Linked DNA regions of Homo sapiens: region 1 is reported to be linked to region 2. Evidence: microRNA targets listed by miRTarBase, many of them from high-throughput screens and not tested one by one. Region 2 holds a microRNA gene; the other region holds the end of a gene's coding sequence.
What was found. Region 2 holds the annotated microRNA hsa-miR-6721-5p (UGGGCAGGGGCUUAUUGUAGGAG, at 2,749-2,771, opposite strand). A microRNA usually pairs through its seed, bases 2 to 8, with sites in the 3' UTR of a target mRNA and lowers its output. Matches are read on the target gene's strand: a 7mer-m8 pairs with bases 2 to 8, a 7mer-A1 pairs with bases 2 to 7 and ends in A, and an 8mer does both.

Region 1: the mRNA of COX18 is a reported target of hsa-miR-6721-5p. Seed matches in the 3' UTR shown: 7mer-A1 at 2,023-2,029.

Annotation. Positions count from the first base shown.
Region 1 is chr4:73,054,869-73,058,868 of GRCh38, forward strand. It overlaps COX18 (cytochrome c oxidase assembly factor COX18), which reads right to left. Exons shown (of 6, transcript NM_001297732.2): 6 at 1-3,419. The coding sequence ends at 3,246. Among named protein-coding and RNA genes, the nearest start is that of COX18, 13 kb to the right of the region's middle.
Region 2 is chr6:32,167,336-32,171,487 of GRCh38, forward strand. It overlaps MIR6721 (microRNA 6721), which reads right to left and starts at 2,781; the gene lies at 2,695-2,781. It overlaps EGFL8 (EGF like domain multiple 8), which reads left to right. Exons shown (of 9, transcript NM_030652.4): 7 at 15-94; 8 at 168-321; 9 at 575-946. The coding sequence ends at 621. AGPAT1 (1-acylglycerol-3-phosphate O-acyltransferase 1) reads right to left here. Exons shown (of 7, transcript NM_006411.4): 2 at 3,962-4,152; 3 at 3,602-3,735; 4 at 3,090-3,265; 5 at 2,830-2,925; 6 at 2,631-2,703; 7 at 877-2,113. The coding sequence ends at 1,941. It overlaps PPT2-EGFL8 (PPT2-EGFL8 readthrough (NMD candidate)), which reads left to right. Exons shown (of 16, transcript NR_037861.1): 14 at 15-94; 15 at 168-321; 16 at 575-950. RefSeq lists enhancers at 1-455, 1,964-3,163.

The DNA.
Region 1 (4,000 bases), not on the chromosome of region 2:
TAGGGGCCCCCAGCCACCAGTCATCACATGAGCATACAAAAGACACTTAACTCTGCAGATTCCGCTGGATGTCAGGGATTGGGGATAAAGACCAAATACATATTTCACAATATCATAGCACGTTATTTTTTGCGTCTCAGCAAAAGTGACAAACACAATGGGAAAAGGAGACTGATTTCCCTCATGCCATTATGAGAAAAATATCTGAGTGTACTCACTCAGTAACACACACGGCAAAGGCCATTATGAGAAAAATATCTGAGTGTACACAGTAACACACACGGCAAAGGCAAAGTTATTCCAGAGGTAATATGTAACTGGCAAAATTTTCCTCAAATTCTTTCCTCTTTTTACTATGACCTAAGCTGCACACACATTTCTGCCTCTGCATCCTTGATTGTACACGCTGCAAATATAGTCAATTTGCATTATTTGTGGTACTTATGTTCCATAAAGTCCACAAACACTGAAGTAGTGAATACCAAATCACTGCTCCTAGAAAACATACAGGGTTAGGTTTCTGCAAGCTTTGTTTTTGTCAACAGAACAATGCAACATATTGTTGATTCAGTAACACTGAACTCTCTGCCAACAGCATTATAACTTGTGCATGAATGAAGCTTATCTAATATACTTATTTTCTCCTAAGCCTTCCTGAGCTTAGGAACATCAGAAAGCACTCCAGCAGGGCATTTGGAGGCCATTTTAAACAGTAAAATCACCAACAAAAAGAACAGAAATTAGGAAGAGATGGGACTAAGTAGACTCAAAAAGGATACATGTTTACGGTATGAGAGCTGAAACTAGAAGGCAGAGTACCATTTGTTTCACTTCTGTTGGGAGGTGACTCACATTTTTGCCTACAAATGGCTCAAAAGCACTTGTGCAAGTACTGGTTCTGGGGTTATGGATAGATTTGAGCAAGGAGGCAAATTTACAAATATAAAATCCACAAATAATGAGGATATTTCAATTCCTTCAATGTGGTTGGAAAGCACAATTGCCCCAATAGGACAGTCAGAAACCAGGACTAGGAACTTGTATGAAAAAAGAACCTAGTCTTAATTGCCACCATCTATGTCTAAAATAAATTCTCAGGGAAGCAGAATTCTTACCTCTGTATGCTGTACATTTTTTCTATTAAAAAATGTCATAACTTCATTAAGCAGGTGAACTAAAATTTAAGAGACATCAATCAAAGAAATGACTAATGAATTTCACTTTAGTTTTTATTTTATTGTAAAACATTGAGATGGAATGATAGGGTTTCCCAGAATCAGGTCCATATTTTAACTAAATGAAAATTATGATTTATAGCCTTCTCAAATACCTGCCATACTTGATATCTCAACCAGAGCTAATTTTACCTCTTTACAAATTAAATAAGCAAGTAACTGGATCCACAATTTATAATACCTGTCAATTTTTTCTGTATTAAACCTCTATCATAGTTTAAGCCTATTAGGGTACTTAATCCTTACAAATAAACAGGTTTAAAATCACCTCAATAGGCAACTGCCCTTCTGGTTTTCTTCTTTGACTAAACAATCTGAATGCTTAAGATTTTCCACTTTGGGTGCTAGCAGTACACAGTGTTACACTCTGTATTCCAGACTTCTTAAATTATAGAAAAAGGAATGTACACTTTTTGTATTCTTTCTGAGCAGGGCCGGGAGGCAACATCATCTACCATGTTAGGGACTTGTATGCATGGACTACTTTACTGCATATATTTCAAGTTGCCCCCGCTTTTTTTTTCAACCACGCATTAACTCAAGATCAATGTATGTTCCATTAGAATAAGATTTATTAACTAGGAATTGCCAGAAAATCTTCCTGGTAACAAGGAAGTCCCCGTATTGTGAGTCTTAAGATTTTTCTGAAGAGAAAACCATACATATATAGCCTTTTTTCAGATGCTCAAAGAGGTCTAAAATCCTCTCCACCTCCAAAATAATAAGAAACATCTCAGCTGGGCACAGTGGCTCACGCCTGTAATCCCAGCACTTTGGGAGGCCAAGGTGGGCAGATCACTTGAGGCCAGGAGTTCAAGACCAGCCTAGCCAACATGGTGAAATCCCATCTCTACTAAAAATACAAAACTTAGCTGGGCATGGTGGTGCACCCCTGTAGTCCCAGCTACCCAGTAGGCTGAGGTAGGAGAATTGCTTGAACACGGGAGGCAGAGGTTGCAGTGAGCCGAGATCGTGCCACTGCACTCCAGCCTAGGTGACAGAGAGAGACTCTGTCTCATTAAAAAAATTAAAAAAAAAAAATGCTGGGTGAGGTGGCTCATGCCTGTAATCCCAGCACTATGGGAGGCCAAGGAGGGTGGATTAGTTGAGGTCAGCAGTTCCAGACCAGCCTGTCCAACATGGTGAAACCCCATCTCTACTAAAAATACAAAAATTAGCTGGGCGTGGTGGTGTGCACCTGCAATCCCAGATACTTGGAGGCTGAGGCAGGAAAATCACTGGAATCCGGGAGATGGAGGTTGCAGTGAGCTGAGATTGCGCCACTGCACTCCAGCCTGGGTGACACAGTGAGACTCCATCTCAAAAAAAAAAAACATGAATCATCTCACTGATCCTCTTATTTTACAAAACAGTAATATGCAGTATTGTTTAGTTTAACTTGCCATCATTCAGTAGCTAACCCTATTCTCCAAAGTTCTGGTAGCTCTAACAAACTGTAACTTTATAAACAGAGACAGGCACTTTGGTTCTATTCTAATACTTTCACAAACATACTGCATTTATAACATTTAAAAGATTTTAATTACTGTCAAATATATCTGGATTACATCTTTTTTTTTTCTTTGATAGCGTTTCACTCTTGTTGTCCAGGCTGGAGTGCAATGGGGTGATCTCAGCTCACTGAAACCTCTGTATTCCAGGTTCAAGCGATTCTCCTGCCTCAGCCTCCCAAGTAGCTGGGATTACAGGCACCTGCCACTAAGCCCAGCTAATTTTTTTGTTATTTTAGTACAGACAGGGTTTCACCATGTTGGCCAGGCTGGTCTCAAACTCCAGACCTCAGGTGATCCACCCACCTCGACCTCCCAAAGTGCTGGGATTACAGGCATGAGCCACTGTGCCTGGTCTGGATTACATCTTAACCTACAATATTTCATGAAGTTAATGATTTTAAATAAAAGGAAATCAAGTAACATCTGAATTTCTAAGTCTAAATACATTTAGATGATAGTGACTCCTGCAACTGTTTCAAAATTATTGGAAAATATGTCATTTTCTTGAAATGAACTTGGTATTAAAGGCAGCAAATATGTCTTTATAAGGAGTTTCTGAATCTGACTTGGTCGATGGTATTCGGCAAAGTTGGCGAAATCCAGGAGAACGCAGCAGCAAATTCTGTGAAAGGCCCACGAAGCTGGAGCATAACCAGTAGAGAACAATTGACTATAAAGAGAAGACATAAATGTTAGCATCTGTAATTCTACAAGGACATCACAGTCCAGACAATAAAAAATAAAATGACAATCTTTGTAAATACAAGTATGCCAAGACTAAGCAAGACTTGCAGCAGCTACTAGATTCCTGGGATAGATTTAATAGACAGGGAAAAAAGGTTACAGACAGACCAAAAAGCAAAAATAAAGGAAAAAGAGAAGTATTTAGGGTAGAAAGTAAAAAGAGAGAAGCTCCTAGGCAGAGGCTCAAGAGAGATCTTATCTCCCTTCTTCGACAATGGAACATAACTTTTTCCCCACCAAAAGTCCTGTCCAACTGCTTACATACTGAAGGTAGAATGCTGGAAGTGTGGCACTTATGATGGCAAACTTAGCCTCCCTACACCTAATTTTCCCCATACAGTCATCTATCTTCCAAATGTTTCCCAACAGCCAGTTTCTCAGTGTAGTAAGGAATGCATTTTCTTTGCCTTCTTCTGAGACAAACAGCCTCAGCATTATCTCCAAATTTCTTTTGTATTACCATCTTGAGCAGTGGTCCCCAACATTTTTGACACTAGGGGCCAATTT
Region 2 (4,152 bases):
TCCTTTGTCCCTAGTTCGGGAGGCGGAAAAAGATGAGCGCGCTCTGAAGCAGGAGATTCACGAGCTGCGAGGGCGCCTGGAGCGGCTGGAGCAGGTGAGCCAAGCCTGCTGGGTGGGGCGAGGCCAGACGTCACTGTCAATACCCTGAGGCATCTCTTCCTTTCTAGTGGGCCGGTCAGGCTGGGGCCTGGGTCAGAGCGGTGCTGCCCGTGCCGCCTGAAGAGCTGCAGCCAGAACAGGTGGCTGAGCTGTGGGGCCGGGGTGACCGGATCGAATCTCTCAGCGACCAGGTGCTGCTGCTGGAGGAGAGGCTAGGTGCCTGTGAGTCCTCACACTCCTCCCGCCTTGACTTCTATTCCCCAACTTTCCCCAAGACCCCTCTCCATTCAGGCATTCCCTCTTTCCTCCAAGCCCCTCTCCAACATTCACTATCCTCATGCCTCTCCACTTTACCATCGTTCTCTTCTGAAATCCTGTCCCCAGCCCAACAGTTTCACTTATTGTTTGGTGAGAGTGGCAGTGTAGTCCACTCCAGGCTGACCACAGCCACTGTGTCTGCCATGTCATTAACCAGGCTCCTGTGAGGACAACAGCCTGGGCCTCGGCGTCAATCATCGATAAGAAGCCTCTACAGCACCCCTGCCCCCTAATTTATACAGAAACCGGACCCACTAATCCTCTGGGATTGGCCGACTGTGAGCTGCAGATAAGGCTATCAGCCACCAAAGAGCAATGAACAATGGAAACTTCAGAGAGCTGAAGAAAGGGGGAGGCCTGTGTTCTTGGCCTGCCCCTGAGTCTTCTGGCTGGGGGCAGGTTGCCTGGGCAAGAACTGCTTCTTCAATTCCTTAACAAATGCAACCACCAACACCCAGATCTCTCTCTCTCTTTATTTTCAGTTTTTTTGCTGTTATCCAGATAATTAATAAAAACCAACCACGCAAAACTGGGTCCCACCCTCTCCTTTTGCTCCCAGCCTACCTCCCCAGTTGTGGGAACAGGTCTGGAGTGAGAGGCAGGGAGTGGCTAATGCCACCAGGAAGAAATGAAAACTGGCTCAGAGAGGGGGAAGCCTCAACAGAAAAAGAAATAAATTAAAAGCCCTCCTATCCCCTCCAGCCAGGGTTCGTTCCTTTCCCCAACTCCCCAGGGGGCAGAAGTGAGTGCAGCACCTGATGTCTGCTTCTTCCCCTTGTGTCTGGTGAGATGGTGCAGCAGGGCTGCAGGGGGCTGGGTGGGGTCATGTCCACTGAAGAACTGTACTATGGGGACAGAAAACCAGAAATGTGGAGACTGAACTGGTATCCCAGAGAGTGCACGACCCTGGGCATCTGGGCAAGGGCAGGCATGAGACCTCTGAATTAGAAGGGTCCAGCCCCCACTGACAGGAGGCTACACTGGGAGGGAAGGTGAAGGTGCTGAGGAAAGCTCCCATGATGAGCCTGGGAGTGCTTCAGGTATCAGCTTCCAGCCAGAGGGCGAGAAGTCCTCCTCACAAATGGATGAGTCCATTGAATCCATGGACTTTGGAGTGGGGGGGATTTGTTCCAAAGAATGGATGAGTCCACTGGCCAATGTGGGGTAGAGGGGTAGAGAAGACCACATAGGAAGAGACTCCACTGGGGATGGAATGTTCCCCTCCCTTGTGTAGGCTGAGTCACTGGAGATGAGGGGGAGGCAACTGTCCCACAGACAAGACAGTAGGAGGTGGGGGTCAAGAGTGGAGACTGCACCGAGGCAAGAGTCCATGGATGGGGCCAAGAGGGGGCAGGAGTGGCGCTGTATCCACATTCACTTCAGAAGTTGAAGATTCCAAAGAGGAGAATAAGTGGGGAGAGGGGAGACAAGGAAGAGGGTTTGGCCCTGCTTCAGGGCCCACTGGGTGGGTAGGTGTGGGGAGGAAGATGGGGACAGATGGGAGGAGAGCTCAGAGCCAGGGTTCACCCACCGCCCCCAGGCTTCTTCAGATAGTCACCACCACCCCGGCCATCAGTGGAGATTTCCCGGAAAACAGTGAGCATGGAGTGCCGGACTCTGTCAGCCAGAGCTGGGACGTCATCTGGTGTCAGCCCTTCCGTGGGCACTGGGGGCAGCACCCGCACCTGACATTGTCCTGGGGCAAGGGGAGCACCATCATGGCCTGTCCACCCAGGTCTTTGCCCACAGGTGGGGCCCAGCTTCCGAGTGATACTCTTCCTCAACCTTTCAGTTCTCTTCCCCCAACCCTGGACAACCATCCCTGGGCTTGCCAGCTGCCACTTCTGAGGCCCTTCTCCTATACAAAGCCTTCTCCAATCCCCAGTTCAGACATCTCCTCAGCACCCCTCCAGCCCCCCTCCTCTGGGTTTGGCATTTACTGCTGAATGAGTGTTATTCATTACAGCTTTGTGCACACAGGCCTTATCTTTCCTGTTAAGATTAGTAACAGCCTCTCTTGGTGGGACCAAGTGCTACCCATCTGGCAGGGTATGGTGGGTGCTTAGTAAAGACTTATTGGCTGATGTGGGGTTAGACTAGATGACTGTGTAGACATCTCATGGCTCTGACACTGAATGATCCCCCTGCCTCACAGGGATGTCCTCCCAGCCTCTCCGGACACACCCTACCCCAGAACTGCTCAAAGCCCTCACCCGAGGTGAAGCGACGCTCCTTCTTGCAGTAGAAGTCTTGGTAGGAGGACATGACTATGGGGACAATGGGAACCTGGGGAAGGGTTAAAGCAGGTCAGTCCACAGCTCTCTTCAGAGACTCCTACAATAAGCCCCTGCCCAGAGATGAGGGAATGGTGGGGGTTGGCAGCTGAGTAGCAGAACGAAGAGCAGTAGTCACCTGGGCCTGCACTGCAAGATGGAAGGCGCCACGTTTGAAGGGCAGCATGGAGCCATTGTGGTTTCTCGTTCCCTCAGGAAACACCCAGACCCTCACCTGGGGGAGAAAGAGGGTCAAAGAAGACAAATACATATGGAGGAGTCAGAATAGGTGTGATGTTATAATGGGACCTTTGAGGCCCACTGGCCCTGCATATCAGTTTATTTACAACTGTTCTACTCTGTATCCCTCCAATCCCCCATTTCCCCAGGATGACTCACGTCCTGGGTGAGCAGGGTCTGGGCGACCTCAGACATGACACTGATGGCATCCCCCGTGCGCTTCCGGTCGATGAAGATGACTCCTGCCAGCCAGCAGGCCAGCCCGGCAGAGCCAGCCCACAGTAGCTCGCGCTTGGCAATGGGCACACAGCGGCCTGGCAGTACCTCCATCATCCCTTGGGCAGGGTGGGAGTGGGTGAGGATCGGGGTGGAGGCAGAGTGTCACAGAAGGCAACCCACCTCACCCAGCTCATCACCCTCTGGTAGGGACTGGAGGTGAAGGAGGAGACTAGGCAGGGAGGGGGGCCCCAAGTGAAGGAAAGGGTGACCAAAAGTATATGTAACCTGCTTATGAGGGCAGTTCTACCCAGGGAATGAAGGCCTGAGTGGGAGGCAAGGGGGCAATGTCCCAGAGGAAGGGGAATTGAGGATCTCTAGGAGAAGATATTCTAGGGAAGGTTTCAGGAGGGGAGGCATGGCTGGGGGAGGTGTGCCCTGTGGTGGGGTCTCACCAAGCAGATCGAGAGAGCTCTGGTGGTTGGAGACAACAACATAGGGCTGCGAGGGAGGGAAGTGGTGAGCCCCTCGCACCTCCACTCGGATCCCGTACAGGTATTTGATGTGGAGCAGCATTAGACGCAAGATCCTGTGGGGTCATGGCAAGGGGTCCCAGTGGGATCCATTGATGTCCATCTGCATGCCTCAGCTCCCCCCACCTTACTGTCTTTCTGACCACCTTTGCAGTCCTCTCCCCATTCCCTGTCTCTGGTCTCTCTCAGTCTTTTCTACACACACCATGCCCCCTTCCCCCAATCCACTACTCACTTTGTACCCTTAGGTTCCCTCATTGCCCAAGACCCCTTGCCCCTCACTTCATGTTCTCGACGTTGCGTCCTCGCACGGCACACACAGGGATGGCGAGCACAGCCAGGAAGAGGATCCAGCCATTGTAGAAGGCCATCTTGAAGAAGTACTTGGCACTGGGGCTGCAGAACCACAGGGTGGGCAGCAGGAAGAGCAGCAGCAGGAAGAGCAGCAGCAGCAGCATCCATGCCCCTGGCCA